Linked DNA regions of Homo sapiens: region 1 is linked to region 2. Evidence: fine-mapped expression QTL. A gene starts in region 2. The other region holds a variant in brackets. All regions are shown on one strand. Distances are between the middles of the regions.

What was found.
Region 1: its variant is fine-mapped to the expression of SIRPG in whole blood (TOPMed, PIP above 0.99).

The regions. Positions count from the first base shown.
Region 1 is chr20:1,629,162-1,639,147 of GRCh38, forward strand. SIRPG (signal regulatory protein gamma) reads right to left here. Exons shown (of 6, transcript NM_018556.4): 3 at 7,027-7,344; 4 at 6,106-6,438; 5 at 1,061-1,145; 6 at 1-475. The coding sequence ends at 1,063. SIRPG-AS1 (SIRPG antisense RNA 1) reads left to right here and starts at 4,347. Exons shown (of 3, transcript NR_110090.1): 1 at 4,347-4,559; 2 at 8,045-8,189. RefSeq lists an enhancer at 5,929-6,754. The variant A/T (reference allele first, on the strand shown) is at 5,421.
Region 2 is chr20:1,652,607-1,662,592 of GRCh38, forward strand. It overlaps SIRPG (signal regulatory protein gamma), which reads right to left and starts at 5,173. Exons shown (of 6, transcript NM_018556.4): 1 at 5,036-5,173. The coding sequence starts at 5,108.

The DNA of each region.
Region 1 (9,986 bases), 23 kb before region 2:
TCTTTTTATTTTCTTAAAACCACTTTGGGAGTGCATTTGTATTCAAGAGGCAATAGAGAACCTCAACAAGGCTGGGGAGTTGGGATAGGCAGGAATCTGGAAGGCAGGATAACTCTTGAGAACCTGGAGAGCGTCTGTGGTTTACGGTCAGTCTCAAGGCGATGGATGGGAGTCCTGGTGTGTTTAGATTTGGCATGTTTCTCGCCTTCTAGGGAGGTGCCGTTAAGTCAGTGCCCAGAGCCCAATCCCATGGCACCTGCTCAGGACCATGAATGAAGACCTTGCTCTGGGGCATCCAGGTCTGTGTGAAGGAGCAACAGGAGCCTGTGGGCAGGCAGATGTCTTGGGAGGGGAGATGTTTGGAGCCAAGTCTAGAGAAGCTTCTCACTGGCTCATTCTCTCAAGCTGAGCCTCTCAGGAAAGGAAGGAGGCAGCAGAGATGAGGGTCCCACGTGGCAGGGGAGGAAGGAAGGAGCTGTAGGAAAACACATCCACACTTAGTCATCTGCTCATCTTTCAAGACATGTTTCCTGAGAGTCTGTTATGTTCTCGGGGCTGGTCTCCTGGGATACCTGTCACTGGTGGACAGGCAGTCCTGATAGAACTCTGCCTGCTCAGCCATCCTGCCAAGTCCTGATGCCCTTTCCAATATTCCTTCCACTCAGACACACAGAGGGTCAGAGCACAAACAGCCTTCAGGGCTTCCCATTTGGGTTTCTCAACATTAGTTTACAATGTGGATTTCTCTGACCCCATGGAGTCCCAGCATTCAAATAATCTACAGATAGCCTGCAAGGGACCACCCACTCATCACTGCCTCCATGAAACTCCTAGGGCACTGTGGACATCTTTGAACACATTTCAAGCATCCCACATTGTACACCACCCACATAATTTCTGTGGGTTGGGAGCCTTTTAAAGGGTTCCCCAAGACTTCCGAGGGTGCGGAGGGAGCTTAACTCCACGGACCCTGGTGCTGCATGGCATGTGGGCTGGGCCTTCCTGTTGGCCTTGCCCTTCTGAGACAGCCCTTGGTCTGTCCTCCCTTCCTTGTACTTACAGTCAGGTCTTCTGCTTCCAGGGGACGTAGATGGGGCCCAGGAGGACAGCTATGAGGAGCAGCGCAGTAAGGGATGATGCCGGGCCTGGAAATCAGGGAAGACGAGGGGCTATGAGAGAGACCACTTGGGAGGCCATTGTAGGGGCCTCCACTTACCCCATCTGAGGCTGCCTGGGCCCATCTATGCCCCACCTTTGAACCTGCATCCTGCCCAGGCTATCTTCACTCCAGCACAAGGCAGAAGCCACAGAAAGAGGCTCCCCATTCTCACTCATCCTGTCCCAGGTTGCCAGCTTATTCTCCTGGAGGGAAGAGGTGGAGGGGGTGTGTACTCAGGTATTCATACATGTGGCAACGGGGTTCCTCACTTGACCCTCACAAGCCTATGGGAGCAGGGATTGTCATTCCATTCTGCTAGGGAAACTGAGGCCCATGGATTTTAGGGAGGGTCACAAGGTTACTTGCATTCAAACCTAAAGAAGCTCATCACTAGTGTTCCTTAGGTTGATCCCTGAGACCATGTCCTTTGGAACAAAACAAGTCCAAATTCCTAGGGACATTTTAATGACTATAAAAGGGTAGGCAGGTGGCTTGAGGATGGCTTCACAATGAGAGTTGCAGGTTCCCTGCTTAGCCCCAGAAGTAAGGGGAGGACTCCGTGTTCTCAGAACTTGGAGGAGCCATGGAACACTGGACATAATGAAACCTTCCGGCTAGAAAACATCCTGGTGAGTCACGGAAATGGGTCTCATGCTTGGGAGGGCCTCAGATGTCACCTAGGCCACCTCCACCCCAGTGCAGGTGTCATCTGAAATCTTTCTGTTAGTTGGGCACACTCAGTTACGGGGAAGCACATGTTTGGACGCTGCATTTTTAACATGAGCAGTTCAGGCTTTTAAAATCAACATTTTTAACGCGAGCAGTTTGGGCCATTAAAGATATTACAGTATATTTTAAATAAATAAAATGGTGCTGGTGGGTCCTTAAGGAAGAAATGGAGAACTCAGCATCTGTGGCTGCTGGGGTGTTGGAGGCCGGCAGTTCTCAGCTGGGTGGCTCTCTGGGACTTCTTCTCCCTTGAGGAAAGCTGCACTGCCCAATTCCAAGTTCACTCCTCCTTCTAGGGGACAGCCCACAAGAAAGATTGGCTGAATTGAAAATAGGAAGGCCACGCTTCTCTCCTCAATTAAAAAACACTACATGACGCTCTCAGCCCTTGGGATCCTCCGCAGGAGCAGCTGGGTCTTTGTTCTACCTGCACTGTAGCTCAGCACCTCGCTCCTCCTACAGTCCTGCCTCCCCATTTCCTGAGGCATGCTGACCCTACAGCTCTTCAGGATGCTTCCTGCATTCCTGTATCCATCTCTAGTCTGCCTTACAGAGAAACTGACCTTGGTAAGTTGTCTGTAAAGCTTACTCTAAAATATAAATTTGAAGCCTGAATACTCATCAGCTCGCAATGAGGACCTCAGGGCTGGCAGTGAGTGGGGCTGGGCACCATGGCTGGGATGCAATTGATAAAACTTTCACTGGCAGTAAGCTGGGATGGCGTAACCACAGGCAGGAAATTCCTTGGCATCAGGCTTTTGAAACAAATTGGGAAATGGTAGTTATAAGGACTAACTTGTTCCATGGCTATCACTGGGCATATTTTTTTTGGGGAAATATGCTGAGAAGCTACGAGTGATTGATTATGAGTTAAGGTTCAGCGTGAAAGCAAGAGGACTTCTTGGCAGCACTGCACTTTCTTATCTCTTGTGGCTAGAGGGCAGAAAGAATAGAGGGTTGGGCCCTGGACATCATTAAAAGAGTAGCAGAATCACAGAGGAGGATGAATCTCAGCTTCAACGGTTGCTATGCTGGGGTAGGGCCCTGATGGGGAAGTTGTGGGACCCTGAGATGTGGGAGTGGACATTTGGGTCAAAGCACTCAAAGATCTTCGGTTGACTTAAGAGTTGCTGGGTACAATTGCAGCAGCATAGCTACTTATCTGTATAAAATATCCTCCCCAAATCAAATAAAAAATGAAAACAAAGTAAGTTCTGCACAACCCTGGCTCTCAGTATTACTTGAAGAGAGAAAGCCAAACTGCAAAATGACCGTGAGTCAAAACAGAACACTCACCTAACCCTAGTGCACAGTCTCTTACCCGGCTCCCACGCCACTGGTGCAGCACTTATGTAACCACAAGGCATCTTGCATTTTACCTGCCAGCCTAGACAACTTAAAATGCATTTCCAGCCTTAGTACCTGAGCAAAGATGCTACATCTGGCAAACCGAAAGCACCCAAAAATGCCAGCCCTGGTCCTGGTCCAAGCCAGTGGGTGGATGAATAACTGAAAAGCAAATGCAATCCAGTCTTGATGGTGCAGTTTTACCTCCCTGAGAAGTAAAACTATGAACCCTAGAAACATCACAAGGATCAGGAATAGGAGAAATTCCAAGGTGGGAGAGGAAGAAGGGAGACTGACTAGGGGCCTCAGGACTGAGGGACAGCCCTGCAGCCAGGCACCTGGGACCCATCCCCCAACACCAGCCCCAGCCATAAACGGAGGCAAAGGAATGACATAGAAAAGAGCAAAAGCCTCAAGTCAATTAAATCACCACTTCAAGAAACTAGAAAAAGTAGAGCAAAATAAACTCAAAGCAAGCAGGAGACAGGAATTAATAAAAAGAAGAGTGCAAAAAATGAATAAACTGGAAACACAAAAACAATTTAAAAACTCACGGAAACAAAGTGGTCCTTTGAAAAGACCAATAAAATGGAAAAAAACTATAGCAAGGCTGATGAAGAAGAAAACAGAAATGGCATATTTTAGATATGAGGTTGAAACAGGGGATATCGCCATAACCCTTCAGACACCAAAAAGATAATAAGGAGATATTATGAACAACTCTACACACAAAAATATGACAACTTAGATAAAATGGACACAAAATTCTTCAAAAGGCACGAGTTACCGGAACTCACCCAATATGAAATGAATAATATGAGTAACCCTAAACTACTGAGGAAATTGAATTTATACTTTTAAAACACCCCCAAAAATTCTTGAGGCCCAAGTGTTTCAAAGAAAAATACTGCAAAGCATTTAAATATGAATTAAAACCAAATTTAGTGCACAGAAAGATAGTCATAAAAGAAATTTGAGGAAAATTTGAATGTATACTCCATTTTAGATGATATAAGGGAATTGTTTTAATAATTTTATGAAATTTAGTGATTAAAAATTTGAAATTGTATTAACTGTAATAATGATACTGGTTTTGTTATGCTGTCTTTAGTCATAAGATCACCCAACTATGGATTCCATTTGGAACTGCGTGTACATGCATGACTGAGTTAGCTGTGGACATGATCACACGCCTTCCATACATCTCTGATTATAGAAGATATTTTTTGCCCTCCATTTCCTATATTTACTCTTCCAGCAGACAGGGACATGGAAAAATCCGTGACCTAGCACTGACCCAGCAGATAAGACTAACCACCATAAGGTATGTGGGAGGAACCTGGGCCTTTGAAAAGTCTCCTGGAGTTGAGACTCCTCCTGGTATTACACAAGAGGGAAGTAAGACATATTTTGGTCATACGGAGTGGAACACAGGCCAACTTCAGGTCCATGGGACAATGCCCAGCAGAAGAGGACTGTTTCTCTAACTAGCACAAATTTGCATTTTAGGCTGATACTGACCTTGTCCTCAGGGACCCAGATTTACTTTAATTAGTTTGAACCAATAACCCGATCTAAAGGCAAGAGGTCTTCAACAACATCCCCCATGACTTCCCAAGTCCTAGTTTCCCCTTCTTTAAAACTCCAGACTTACTGGGTGGTTGAAGCAAAAACAGAGATCATGGATGAATGGAAATTTGCACTTAGTAAATTTGCAGAGGGGTTTGTGATTATTGTTGCTCAAATATCACAATCAGGACACAGAAGAGGTCCGTTCTGTGACCATTCATGGTCACCTGCAGGCCTGGTACAGTTTTTTTTTTTTTTTTTGACAGAGTCTCGCTCTGTCGCCCAGGCTGGAGTGCAGTGGCATGATCTCGGCTCACTGCAAGCTCCGCCTCCTGGGTTCACACCATTCTCCTGCCTCAGCCTCCCGAGTAGCTGGGACTACAGGCGCCCGCCACCACGCCCGGCTCATTTTTTTGTATTTTTAGTAGAGATGGGGTTTCACCGTGTTAACCAGGATGGTCTCGATCTCCTGACCTCGTGATCCGCCCGCCTCGGCCTCCCAAAGTGCTGGGATTACAGGCGTGAGCCGCCAGGCCTGGTACAGTTTTAAACTACATTTGTCTTTCTGAAACATACACAGCAGATGTCAGGGTGTACTGGGATGAGGTCATAAATG[A/T]GGATGGAAAAGTTTGGATGAAACAGAAACAAAGCAGAGGTTAGAAAAAGTAGGGAGCACAAGGGTGGGCTGATGAGAAACGGGCACAACAACTCTCAAGGAATAAGGGAAGGCAAAGGACTCTATGAGAAGATGGTTCCCCCTGCCTGCCTCTTTGCTCCTTAAATATATATTTATGTACGCCAGGCGCGGTGGCTCACGCCTGTAATCCCAGCACTTTGGGAGGCTGAGGCGGGCGGATCACGAGGTCAGGAGATCGAGACCATCCTGGCTAACACGGTGAAACCCCATCTCTACTAAAAATACAAAAAATTAGTCGGGCGTGGTGGCGGGCGCCTGTAGTCCCAGCTACTCGGGAGGCTGAGACAGGAGAATGGCGTGAACCCGGGAGGCGGAGCTTGCGGTGAGCAGAGATCGCGCCACTGCACTCCAGTCTGGGCGACAGAGCCAGACTCCGTCTCAAAAAAAAAAAAAATTAAACATATATTTATGTCAAAAGTTCTATTAACTTGTGCATCAAATTCTTACTAGTCATGACTCTTCGCATGTGGGATTTGGGGGGATGGAGCTGACATTAAAATTTTACTTTGTATTTATAGACTTCTAGCTTATTTTACAGCAAGTGTGGATATTACTTTTAAAATGAGAGAAAAAGACAAAATTTAAAAATTTTGAGTAACCTCACCAGGGGTAGCATCTGAGCTCTGGTCCTTCTGGTGGACTGTGACCTCTAGGGCAAGGCGTTTGCTGACCGCCAGCTGCCCATCATGCTTCACCTGGCAGGTGAGGACCACATCATCCCTTTGGTCAGATATGTTCACCAGGAACCAGCTTGTCCAGTTGTAGGTACCATCCTTGTTCTCTGTAAGGGTCGAGGCTGTTTCTCTCTGGCACACGTTTCCATTCTCCGACCAGGTCAGCTGTAGGCTCTGGGGGTAGAACTTCCTCACCTGGCAGGTGACGTTTACCTGGTTCCCCACCCTCATGGGCTGTTGAGTAACCTCCAAGGTGGGTGGAACTGAAACAGCACAGGGTAGAAGCTCTGATCTTCTGGCACAGACAGATCACAGGGAGGGCTCCATAACTTAACTCCCACTACCACGGTGAGGGCATCACCAGGACAGTGCTAGGCAGGCAGCAGATGCTAAGACATTGAGGGCGCTCTTTGCATATGAATGAAATTACCAAGCACAGTGCCTGGTGCACAGTAGGTGCTCAAGGACTGGTAGCTCCTACTAGGCTAAGAATGAGTGAAATCTACAAGCACAACCCCTGGCATGCAGTTGGAATGTAAGAACTGTAGCAAAATCAGTGAAATCGCCGAGCACATAGGGACTTGGCTCATAGTAGGTACTCACTAATAGTAGTTGTTCTTGGTGAGATAAATGAAACTCTCTAGCGCAGAGCTTGGCACGTGATTGCTGGTCCCCTGACCGCTGCCAATAAAATGATAGTAAGTGACCAGCACACCTAGGTGCATGGCGGGCGGGCAGTATAGTCAGGGATTAGATTACAGGCCATTCAACCTCTGGAGCAACAGCCTGGGGAGAGGGGAGTGGGCTTGACAGCCAGGTGTGGGCTTGGGCTGGGTGTGAGGGTCCTCTACCTCGGATGGCCTCAGACAAGTTGGCAGTCCCACGAAGAGGGTCCCCCTGCAAGGTGACATGGGCCACCTCGCAGATGACCTGAGAGCGAACGTCCCAGGGGTCCAGTACCACCCTGGCTGTGCTGCGGATGCTGTAGGCCACACTCTGTCCTGTGGGGTCCACGTTGGTCTGGAAGTCTGAGAGCTCATTCCCATTTTTGAACCATTTCAGGGTGATGTCTCTGGGAGAGAAGCCATGGGACTCACAGGTGAAACTCACTGTATGCTCAGGTGTGGTCCTCGCCGCAGGGCCCAATACCACGGGGGCAGAGGGTTTGGCTACAAAAGGGGCATCGATAAACAGGAGACATGACTGAGATGACAATCACTAACGATGAGTGTGTGACACTGTTAAGAACCTTCAGATACATTAATTTTAATCCTTCTAATAATGTGGAGAGGATGGTGTTCTTATTCTCATTTTACAGAGCAGGATGCAAAGGTTGGAAGAGGTGACGACCAGCCCCAGGTCAGACAGTGTAGGGAAAGGTCCCAGAGGGAAGTCCAGGTCTGAGTTCAAAGTCCTCCTCTCCACATAGGGTGACTTCCACCAATCTGGGCACAGGAACAAAGTTACTGATTGTTCTCCCTCTGTGTATTAACTGGTGCTAGCCTGTTTCCCCAGGAGAGCTCACCAACCTCAGAGAGGGTGTTTACAGAAGCCAAAGTAGGGAACAATGGCAAAGTGGCGCCACCATGAGACCTGCAACCAGGCTGCTCAGCCCATGAGAGGGGTGGCCTGGAACATGCAGCCCCTCATCTGCAAAGTGGGACAGCAGCATTTTCCCTTCCCAGGGGTGCAACAAGGATTAAATGGGGCCATGGAAGAAGTTTTGCTTTGGATCAAAGTCAGAAGATGCTTCATAAAAATAAACACAGATCTGTCTTTAATCCAGACTTGACATATACCTAGAGCTCTCTCTCTTTGTGTATTTATGAATTTATTCCATATTTTTCATTCTTTTCACAAATATTCCAGTACAGTTTTTGAAAGAAAATGAAGTAGTTAAGGCTAAAGCTTTAACATGGAGTCAAGCGTTTGTAAGAGCATTGCACTCACACCTGCTAAAGGTCAAGCCACAGGATGTTGCTGTAGACCTGGATAACAATGGACTGAAGTCAAGGTACATGGGATTTTGATTTCTCTCATCCTGGAGTGTCCTAATTAAGTAACCAATTCATACGAGTTTGCAGTTTAGCATTTCTGCCAGGCAATGAACTGTTTTCAAAAACAACATTTTGTGAAAGTCCCCAGTACAAAACTTTTCCTGCATTGCCCTATGGGACACTGTTCAGGACTACCATGACTCAGGGTTCCCAAATTGCAACTCTTTATTTCCCAGATAAATGCTATTTCCTTTGGCCTTCCTATCAATCATTATTTTTTTTAGTTAGCAGGTCTAATCTGTGCCAAGTCCCAAATTTGAAAAGAGGGAAGGTTTCTTGGAATCTAGGTCTTCAGTTGGGCCAGGTTGGGTCCAAAAACAATGATCACTGAGTACTAAGAAAGCCAAAGGTGGGTGATTTCTTCATCGTTAATTCATTACAAGAGACAAAGATCTAGGCCACCCCAACAGGCAGAAATCTATCCTGGGTCCTGAAAGCACACAAACTGGAGAATCAGAAAAATGAGGGTAGTTTCTCCCTGTAGATGAGTCCTAAACGTGTCTCCAAATTGCTAATTATTACCCTGCACCTCCTATAGCAGTCATCAGGAAACACATATTAGGCATACTTGCATTTGTAAATATTAACTTGCTCCCTACCACATGCAAACATTTTATGGGCACAGTAAGAAGGGTGTCACTTGAAGAAGTCAAGTCATCAAGACACCAGCAGCATTGGGCATCCCTAGAGGGCTGAGAGGCTGTAACCAGTTGCCATTTATTGAGGGCTTCTTGGGAGCCTGATGCTGGCTGCTCCCTCTGTACCTCTCAGCTCTTTAATCCTCCCTTTATTGCCTTGAGGGGGTCCTCGTGTGAGTCCCTTATAGGACCAGGGTCTGAGGGGACCCCAGCTAGCAAAGGGCCAAAAGTGGATAAAAAACCCACCCTGGTAAGGTGAGGGAGGATGAAGGCAAGCACGGAGCCTGGTATGCAGCAGGTGCTTAATAAATGAGCCCTATGGCTGTTATCAAGAGGTTTGGTCATTACTACTTCTGAATCTACACACTTATTCTTTAGGCAGCAGAACATAGAGGAGTAGAAACACCAAGAAAAGGCTCAAATCCTGCTCCCTGCAGCTCATGAAAAACTCAAATGATAATAAAAGCAAAACCACCAAGTCTGGACAACTGGCTTTCAAAAAAAAATAAGATCATAGGTAAAGCTGGAAGCATTTTGGAAGGAGGAGGGAACAGAGTCCTCTGTGACATCTTTTTATTATTATTATTTTACTTTAAGTTCTGGGATACAAGTGCAGAATATGCAGGTTTGTTTTATAGGTTATGTTTGCCATGGTGGTTTGCTGCACTTATCAACCCATCATCTAGATTTTAAGCCCTGCATGCATTAGCTATTTGTCCTAATGCTCTCCTTCCCCTCACCCCCCCACCCCTTGACTGGCCCTGGTGTGTGTTGTTCCCCTCCCTGCGTCCATGTGTTCACATTGTGCAACTCCCACTTATGAGTGAGAACATGTGGTGTTTGCTTTTCTGTCCCTGTGTTAGTTTGCTGAGGATAATGGCTTCCAGCTTCATCCATGGCCCCGCAAAGGACATGAACTCATTCTTTTTTATGGCTGCATAGTATTCCATGGTGTATATGTACCACCTTTTCTTTGTCCAGTCTATCACTGATGGGCATTTGGGTTGGTTTCATGTCTTTGCTATTGTAAATAGTGCTGCAATAAACATACATGTGCATGTGTCCTCATAGTAGAATGATTTATATTCCTTTGGTTACATACCCAGTAATGGGATT
Region 2 (9,986 bases):
ACACATGATCATCTATTTTGATGCAGAAAAGCATCTGGTAAATTTGTACATCTATTTACGATGAAAACAATAAAAAGGATATATGAATACTTTCACAAGATGATAACATTCACCTACTCATACTTTATTTTTATTGCACTTATCATTGTCAAAAATTAATTTTTTCATTCACCTATTTATCATGTGTATTGATTACTGTCTTTCTCTGCAGTGGATGTAAGCAACAAAAGGGCAATTACTTTTTCTCTTTTATTCTACCAAAGTACCCCATGTTTTTATGTCAGATCCTGGCACATAGTAGGTATCCAATAGATATGTGTGTAATGTTTGAATTGCTCAGTGGGACATTTCCCTCGAAGACTGAAATCTTCTATTTTAGGTGGTTTGCTCCTGTGGAATTTGACAGAAAATGAGTTTCCCATGTAGAGGACTTAGTGAAAAAAAATCAGTTTGCAAACATACAGAAAGTAGAAGAGCCCAGAGAAGAAAACCACAATCTCCCTTCACACCACATTGCCCACTCCACACCCAAGAGCAGCAGCTGCAGAAATCTCATGGAATAGAATCAAGACCGGAAGTGTTTGAGTAATGGTGAAACCTGTGACCTCTAGAGTCAGAGTGCCTGAGTTCAAATCGTAGCTCTACCAGTTACCAATGAGTGAGCCTGGAGCACTTTGTGCTTCTGTTTTCTTATCTGTTAGGAAAGGTGACAAGAATATCTACCTTGTATATAATGATCACATGAAGTAAAAGAGGTAAGGCATTTTCAACAGTGTCTGCCACATGGTGAACGTTCAAAAATTGTAAAGTTATTGCTCAGTAGATTTCTGAGGCTTGGAGGCTTCAGTGGACATTAGATGACAAGGATAAGGATAAGGGTATGGATATGGATATAAATATAACTATAGTTATAGGTAATATAGGCAGACCTGTGTCACCTGTATCCCCACATTTTTTTCCTCATTTCTACCTTCATGGAAGAGGGAATTTCAGGATAAAAATGCACAGAAATTCTGCTTTGAGGGAAAATGCATTTTACCAAGAGAGAAGTTTGCTTATCTGTTGCTTCTATTAACAGATTGGAGGACTTTCAGTGGTAAGATTAGAGAAGTAGGAAGGAGGGAGAGTGGCTGGGCAATAGGGAAAACCACACATCTCTTCAATGTGCATTTCATATAGACTGAAAAAATGAGTTGAAGTTTACAGTAAAGAAAGTCTTTAAAATTCTGTGTGTGTTTCAGCATGGTCACATGAGATTTATCTCAGGAATGCAAGGATGGTATAACATTCATAAATCTCCAAATGTGATATGCTACATCAAGGCAATCTTGAGCAAAAAGAACAAAGATGGGGCCGGGCATGGTGGCTCATGCCTGTAATCCCAGCACTTTGGGAGGCCGAAGCGAGCAGATCACGAGGTTAGGCAATCGAGACCGTCTTGGCCAACATGGTAAAACCTTGTCTCTACTGAAAATACAAAAAATTAGCCAGGCATGGTGGTGCACACCTGTAGTCCCAGCTACTTGGGAGGCTGAGGCAGGGGAATCACTTGAACCCGGGAGGTGGAGATTGCAGTGAGCTGAGATCACACCACTGCACTCCAGACTGGCGACAGAGCAAGACTGCATCTAAAAAAAAAAAAAAAAAGAACAAAGATGGAAGCACCACACTGCCTAATTTCAACATTGACTACAGTGTCAAAGTAATCAAAATGGCATGGCACTGGCATAAAAAGAGATATATAGACCAATGGATCAGAGCAGAGAGCCCAGCAATAAACTCACACATTCACACTCAATTGACTATTGACAAAAGTGTGAAGAAAACACAATGGTGAAAGGTCTGTCTCTTCAAAAAGTGGTGCTGGGAAAGTTGGATATCCATGTGTAGGGGAATGAAATTAGGCCTTCTTCTCATGCCTCATACAAAAATCAACTCAAAATGGATTAAAGATTTAAATGTAAGATCTGAAACTGTACAAGAACTAGAAGAAAAGTTTCATGACATTGGTCTTGGCAATACATTTTTGGATTTGAGCCCCAAAGCACAGGCAACAAAAGCAAAAATAGACAAAAGGCATTAACAACAAACTAAAAAAGCTTCTACCCAGCCAAGGAAACAATCAACAGAGTGAAGAGACAACCTATAGAATGGAAGAAAACATTTGCAAACCATACATCTGATAAGGAGTCAGTATACAAAATATATAAGGAAGTCAAACAACTCAACCATAAGAAAACAACCCTATTAAAATATGGGCCAAAGATCCGAATAGACATTTCTCAGAAGAAGACATTAAGATGGCAAGTCAGCGTATAAAAAAAAATCCAACCTTACTATTCATGAGATAAATGCAAATTAAAACCGCAGTGGGCTATCATCTCACACCTTTAAGAATGGCTATTATCAAAAAGAGGAAATTTAGTATTGGAGAAGATGTGGAGAAAAGGGAACCCTTGCAGACAGTTGGTGGGAATATAAATTAGTAGAGCCATTAGTGAAAACAGTATGCAGGTTCCTCAAGAAATTAAAAATATAACTCTTATCTGATCTGGTAATCTCACTACTGGCATATATCCAAAGGAAATGACATCAGCATGTCACACATATATCTGCACTCCCATGTCCATTGCAGCATTATTTACAAAAGCCAAGATATGGAATCAACCTAGGTGTCTATCAGCAGATAAATGGAGAAAGAAAATGTAGCATATATGCACAATGAAATTCTAATCAGCCTTACAAAAAGGGAAACCCTGTCATTTGCAACAACATGGATGAACCTGGAGGACATTCTGCTAAGTGAAATAAGCCAGGCACGGAAAGACAAACACTGTATGATTTCACGTATGAAGAATCTAAAAAGTTGAGCTCATAGAAGTAGAAAGTAGAATGGTGTTTATCGGGGGCTAGAGAGGGGGTGTAGTTGGGGAGATATTAGTCAAAGGATACAAAATTTCAATTTAAATAAGAGAAATAAGTTCAAGATATCTATTGTACAATGTGGTGTTTATACTTAATAATATGAATTGTATTCTTGAAAACTGCTGAGAGAGCAGAGTTTACGAGTTCTCACAATAAAAAATGATAAATATGTAAGGTAATGCATATGTTTATTAGTTCAAATTAGTCATTCCACAATGTATGCATATTTCTTAATATGTTGTACATAAGTATACATACTTTTGTCAAATAAAAATAAAATAAAATATTTATTTTGTTAAAAATTTCACTGAAAATAGAAAGAGAACCAATGATTAAAAATGAAATCTCATCTGTGCATGTACATGTACATGCATAGGCACATGTGCATATATATGTGTATATAATGTGTATATATACACATTCACAAATATATATAAAAGTTTGGCTTATCATGTTAGTATATAAGGTTGTTTTGTGCATTAATTACAATTATGACAAATTTAAAAATCTCAGTAAAATATTTGGCACATAGAAACCATCCAACACATTTTTAACATTTTGGGAAAACATACATACACTAGTGTTTTACCTCTGATTGTTTCTGACTGGTGTGATGGGTGATTATTAATCTAATGTTTGCTTGCCTGCATTTTCTAATATTTCTACACATAGCATAACATGGTTAAAAGGGTGATAAACTCTGGAACTGGTCAACCTGGACTTGATCCCAACTGCTCCATGGACTGAAGTAGGGGACAATGAACAGGTTCCTGCCTCTGCCTCACTCCCCATTTGCAAATAGAGCACAAGAGTTATAGCTTCCACACAGGGATGCTGTGAGGATTAGTTGACTTAATACACACAAAATGCTAAGAAGTGCATCTGCCTTACAGGAAGAGAGCAATTGCTGAACTATTACTGCTGTCATTTGGGTACAGTGTATGTGTAAAAAAAATAATTTGAAAAGTGAGACCTTGCCCTCTAAGACCTGTGAGATGACATCACAGCAGGGCCCAGTGGGCAACTGAGAGGCTATTGTGCCCAGCCCTGTGACCGGGGGTCAGCTGCATGGTCTGAAAAAGGGGTGAAGACAGGCAGCCTGTCTGGGAGCTGTGAACAGGGCTCTCTCAGGTGGCACCAGGAAAGACCTCCCAATCCTGTCTGCCTGGGGGAAGGGAAAATAAATTCTCCAGAGGAAAGTCAAGATGACCAAGGGAGATGGTGGTGCCTGTTATGGGCTGAATGTGCCCCCAAAACGAATGGGTTGAAGCCCCAATCCCCAGCGCCTTAGAATTTGACCATATTTGGAGACAAGGTCTTTAACCCATTTATGCCCGAGGTTGCAATTTTTTTTTAATTTGAAAAATCAGACCTTGGCGATGCCCTTGAGCAGTAGGATATAAATAACTCCCGCAAGCTTAGTGATCCAATAACGGAGCACTAGGCATAAATGGGTGAAGCAATTTAGTTAAATGAGGTCACTGGCGGGGAGCCTTAATCCAATATGGCTGATGTTCTCATAAGAGAAAATGAGAATACAGACACACACAGAGGAAGACCATGTGTCAAGACACATGGAGGAGATGGCCTTCTACAAGCCAAGGAGAAAGACCTCAGTAGAAACTAACCCTGCTGGCATCTTGATTTTGCAATTCAGCCTCCAGAACTGAAAGAAAGAAAGTAAATGTCTATTGTTTTAGTTACTGAGTCTGTGGTGCTTTGTTGTGGAAGCCCTAAGAAAGGAATATAGGACGCTGTAAGCATGAAATGTGGAACTTCTTAAAGAGGAGGAGGGCACACAAAAATGGGTAGGAGGACTCAAGACAGGTAAGGATTTAATAATGATTCTTCTGTGTTTGTCAAATAAAATATTATAAAAATGTAACTAATTGTGATGGTGGCAGAAGCCTCACAAGGTTTGATGCCTCTGGTAGCCAGCTGCAGATCCACAGAGAAAGTGCTCAGCTCCCTGATCTTCTGCTCTTGGACAATGTCCAGTCCTTGACCTTCCTTGGCAGTGCTTGTGCTTATCTGAAATTGCTGCAAGTCCAGGGGCAAGGCTAGGTCCAGGAAGCAGGGAGAAAGGGTTCTAGCCCAATGCAATGCTCACCTGTAAGTCCCAGCAGTAGAGTCAGAAGCAGGAAAGGACCAGGAGGATGGGGCCAGGAGGCTGGGACAGGCATTTTGGAGACCTCAGAAGCCTGCTCTGTTCAAACGTCTGTTCTGGGGAGATGTCAGGCCCTGCTCTGAAGACAGAAGACAAGCCCTGCCTCCCTCAATTCAAGAGGAAGTGGCTATGATGGAATGCAACAGTAACCTGCTTCTAGATTGTGACTTACAAATCAGGCACAGTAGGCAGCTACAAAGCAAGGAGTTAATCGTGCTCCATTTTCAGGATAATCAGACAGGGTTAGCAGAAATAATGCTTCCTGCCTGCCTGGGACCTGTGCTCCCTCCTCGTGTCCCCAAACCCATTTTCAGGTCTTCTTGGTGATTTGCCATTTGAGGCTTTTAAGTCAAGAAAGATCTGTTGTTAGGTATTGTTTTCTAAAGTCTTTATTTCAAGACCCTAGGATGTGGTTGGCTTGTGGTCTTGTTCTGCACCAGCCTCAACCAAATGCCACTCCGCTGGACGTAGGAGAAGAGTTCACAGGACCTGCTCAACACTGGAGAGGAACCAGATCTTCTCCTGAAATGATTTTCTATTCCAAATTGCTATAATTGGCAACACTTAGCCCAAATTCAGTCTCTTGTGGACCTTAGCACTTTCATGTGCCTGCACCCAGCAGAAGGAATTATTTCTTGACTCCTTCCAGGAGAGAAACTGGGTTTGAGGTAATAAGCAACTGCTTTGTGGAGTGAGGTGGGGATTGTGGGTTATGGAAAGGGGATAGGGTTATCATGAGGGAAGATTATGGTGGGCAGGTTCCTGGGGCCGTCGCATCAATTTCAATACCCTTTCTTCTACACACAGAGCACCTATTTCATTCATCACTGAGTTCGGATGGGAAATGAGGAAAGAGGAAAAATCCATGCTCCTGCCAAGAGTGTGTGCCAAGGAGTTGGGGAAGTCGCTGGGCCCTCCTATGCTCAGTTTCAATCTCCTAAACTGGGAATAGTAAGTCTTTTTGTGCAGTGTTTTAGTGACGATTAAAGAGGTAATGAGCATATCATGCCTGAAACCCAGTAGGTCATTATTGATACTCACGGTGCCAGGTGAAGTGCGGGAACTCAAATGTTGCTTTTGAATGGATCCCTCCTGCATGCTGAGTTGCCCACCAGTGGCTTTCTCCCAGCAACCCAGGCCTCCTGAGACCCAGCTTATATAGTGTATTTGGACTCTCGCTGCCACCCTGAAATCAGTTTCTCCCTCTGGATTCTCTAAATCCCGCTCCTTGTTCAACCATAGATTAATTCCTCCTCTTACAATTTCCAGCTGTGTGATTTTCAAAAAGACACTACTTCTCTGAGCCTTGGTTTGATTGTATGTAAATAAATGTTAGAATATGCACCTTGTAGAGCTATGGTAGGAATAATATAAGCCATACTGAATGCTTGACTCATAATTAATTATAAGCAAAAAAACATGGCTATAATTATTTTCTGTGTACAGGAAGAGTCCACTGGTTCTCTGCCACCGTTGTGCCTTAGAAAAGCCACCTTGTTAAAAGAAATGATTTCTCTTCCAGCATCTATGACTAAGAAAGACCTGTCCAGAATCCTTCATCTCACATGTGGGTTTTAGGTTCTTAATCTGTCATGAATAATTGTCAAATCAAATTGTAAATGTTATCATGTTTTAATTGAAAGTCCTGTTTTAATGTGGCAGATGTACACAGGGTGAAATCTTCCCCTCCTTCTCCACACCCACAGTAGTGAAAACACAAAATGAAAAGAATATATGAATCAATGTCTAATTACACTTGAATACAAGCAATTGGCTTCTATATGACATGAAGGAATTATAACAGCTATCATTTATTGAGAGTTTCCTGTGCTCCAGATATGGTGCCAAGCATTTTTCTATTGGTAATGTCATTAAATCATTGCTCTGACCCCATGAGGTAAGCTCAACCATTAACCTCCTTTCACAGGTGAGAAAACCCGAGGCACATGGAGAGTAATGAATTTGCTCAAGATCACCCGGCTTTTAGAACTGGAACATAGGCTGCCACACTCCACAGCCTTCACTTTTAATGGTTGTACTATGATACCTCTTGCAGGAAGGGAGAGACATCCCTCAGGAAGAAAGCAGAGAAGAAGCTATAGCCTCAATTAGGAGCAGCCCTCATAGTGAGGCTGGGGCAGGTGCCATGCTCCACGAGGCCCTGACAACCCATGATCACATGGGGAATTATTCCTGGGAAGACGGAAGTGCAAGCAAGAATCACCAAAGATTTGAGGAACAGCACTGCAGCTAACAAATTCAAGAAAAACAATAACTCAAAAACAAATAGCAATCAAAAGAACTTCACACCTGAGCAAATATGAAAAAACAAAATGTGTAAAGTTCTTTAAAGTTAGTATACTTAATGATCTTATAAGGAAAACAAAAGAGAAGTAAATTCATAAACCAACATCAGGCATGTAATAATATGAAACAGAAATAGGCGGGCATGAGGTAACAACAACCATCTTGAAAAAATACCAAAACACAGACTTTGGAAATGAAAACATAATCAGTGCTGAAATTTTTTAAAAAAACTTAATAGGTTGACTAGCTGACTATACATAAATAAGTATAATAGTAAGTTAGTAAGCTGGGTGATTATGTAGGGGAAATTTCCTGTGGTACAGCACAGAGACACACCCAAACAAAGTAATGTGGATAGGTAAAAATATACCACAATATTGTGGTATATCTTTTCCTATTGCTCTATTTTTACCTATCCACATTACTACATTACTTTGAGAGGTGTGAGTCATAAAGTATTATGTCTCCAAAAATAAGAATTGGGCGTATATGACTCAAAAATGCATAGTATAGTGTCAGGAAGATGGCAGAATCTGTGCTTAGAGCAGCAAGTGCCTTCCTGTGAACTTCAATCCTTCAGTAAAGATCAACTAAGTACACAGATGCTTACAATTTTTGTGGAAATCACGTGGAGAATTGAAATTTAAATTTAGGTGACTTGGGGAAGCATAGATAAAATCTGAATGTTTGAGAGGACCAGGAACCTGGGAGTCCATGAGCCAAAATTCTCCTTTATCTGCCATATTTCACCCTGACTCATCACAGCAGGTGCAGATAACCAGGGACGACTTTGGGACACATGAGAAACTGGGAGCCAGTGGATGCTCCAGAAGACTAAAGATGTAAGACTGTGGGCTTAAGAATCAAAACTTCCTGGTCTGAAATCCAGCTCTAATGGGTCCCAGCTGTGTGATCCTGGGGTCACTATTAACTTCCCTGTTTCCTGAGTTTCCCCAAGTGTACAACGGAGAGAATAATCATACCATCTTCATAAGTTTGTGATGAGAATTAAATGAACTAATATATGCAAATTACTTAATACTATCTGACCATGTCCTCCAAAAGTTATATATTCAGTATTACCATTATCATTATAGATAGTAGTTAGATATTATCGTTATTAGGTAGTGTTTTGGTAATAGCAACAATTTTAAAAAACAGATCCTCTGCCCTCAAGAATTTATGATGCTGTGTGACAACCTTGGCCAGTGGCTGGTGGAGGTGGAGTACGACGATGATGAGCTGAGGTCATGTGCCCAGCCCTAGAATCATGGAGTCATTACCAGCACCAGGGGCATGCTATAGGCATGACGTCTGGGGGAATCAATATGACCCCAGTAAGGGTCTACTCAAATGCTCATGGAAAAGCTGTTCCAAATCTTGTCTCATGCTGGGATGGGAGAGAAGAAAATGCTCCCAAATGTAAATCAATAGGAGCAGGTAACATGGGCTGAGAGGGTGAGGAGACACCATGTAGAAATACACTCATGTAGAGCAGGCTGCACTCACTCACCTGTGAGTCCTGGTAGCAGAGGAAGTGGCAGGGGCTGTCCAGATGGGCTGGGAGACAGGGATGGACATTGCCTGCCCTGTCAGACTGTCTCATGGAGAGAATCCAGACTCTACTCTGCAGGAAAGGAGGGCATCTGCTTATCTGCTATGTTGTCTGAGGAGTGAGGTAGCTGTAGGGAGAAAGGGCCATGAGACTGGGACAATCCTCCATTGTGAAAGAGGAAGTGGACACAGTTGCCATCTCTGGGAAGTTGTGGATGTCTGTGCTTGGGGTTCCCAGGCCTGGGTAGATTTAGCCAGTACTGGAGAGAGGTCCACTGCCCCAGAACCTGCTCTCTGTTTCAGAGGCACTCATCTCATGCCAGGGGTCCCATGACCCTTCCTCATTGACAGCCCAGACCAAGAGGGCTCTGTAGCTAAGGACTGAGCTTGCAATTTCAGAGACCATAATTCCAGATGTGGCACATTTGAGGGCTTGTGGCTGTAGCAGCTTTCTGGGATGAAACCCAGTCCCCTGCACAACCCCTGCAAAAAGTCCCTTAAGTCAACACCAAGGAACCAGCTGAGCAAATCAAAAGTGACATTTCTTCTTAGATCTGTCAGAAAAACGAGGTCACAGGGCAAACCACTGTCCCCAGAATTGAGGAGTTGGGCAGGGTAATATAGAGAATCACAACTTCCTGAAGCCAAAACCTCTGTGGGAACCAGTGCCGGGGAAGGAAAGCCTGCACTGTAATTGAAGAATTTCTTGAGGCTCAGTGTGGGCCAGTCTTAGACACAAACTCGAGGAGGACCCAATAACGGAGGTCTCCCACACTTTTGTGAGTTTTATCTCTGGGAGCTTGGTTAGCTCGTCAGAGTGAATATAGGAGAAATATTCACTTGTGCTCCCAGGACACGGAAAGGAAAAGCAATCACTTAAAAATATACCAGAGTGTCCTATTGTTCTTTCGCTTGTTCCATATAGTAAATATGCAAGACAAAGGCAAGCACTGTTCCAACTACTGTTGATACATTTTTAGAAAGAAATAAAACAATTTAACTCTCAATGTTTCTAATGCTTTGAATTACAGTA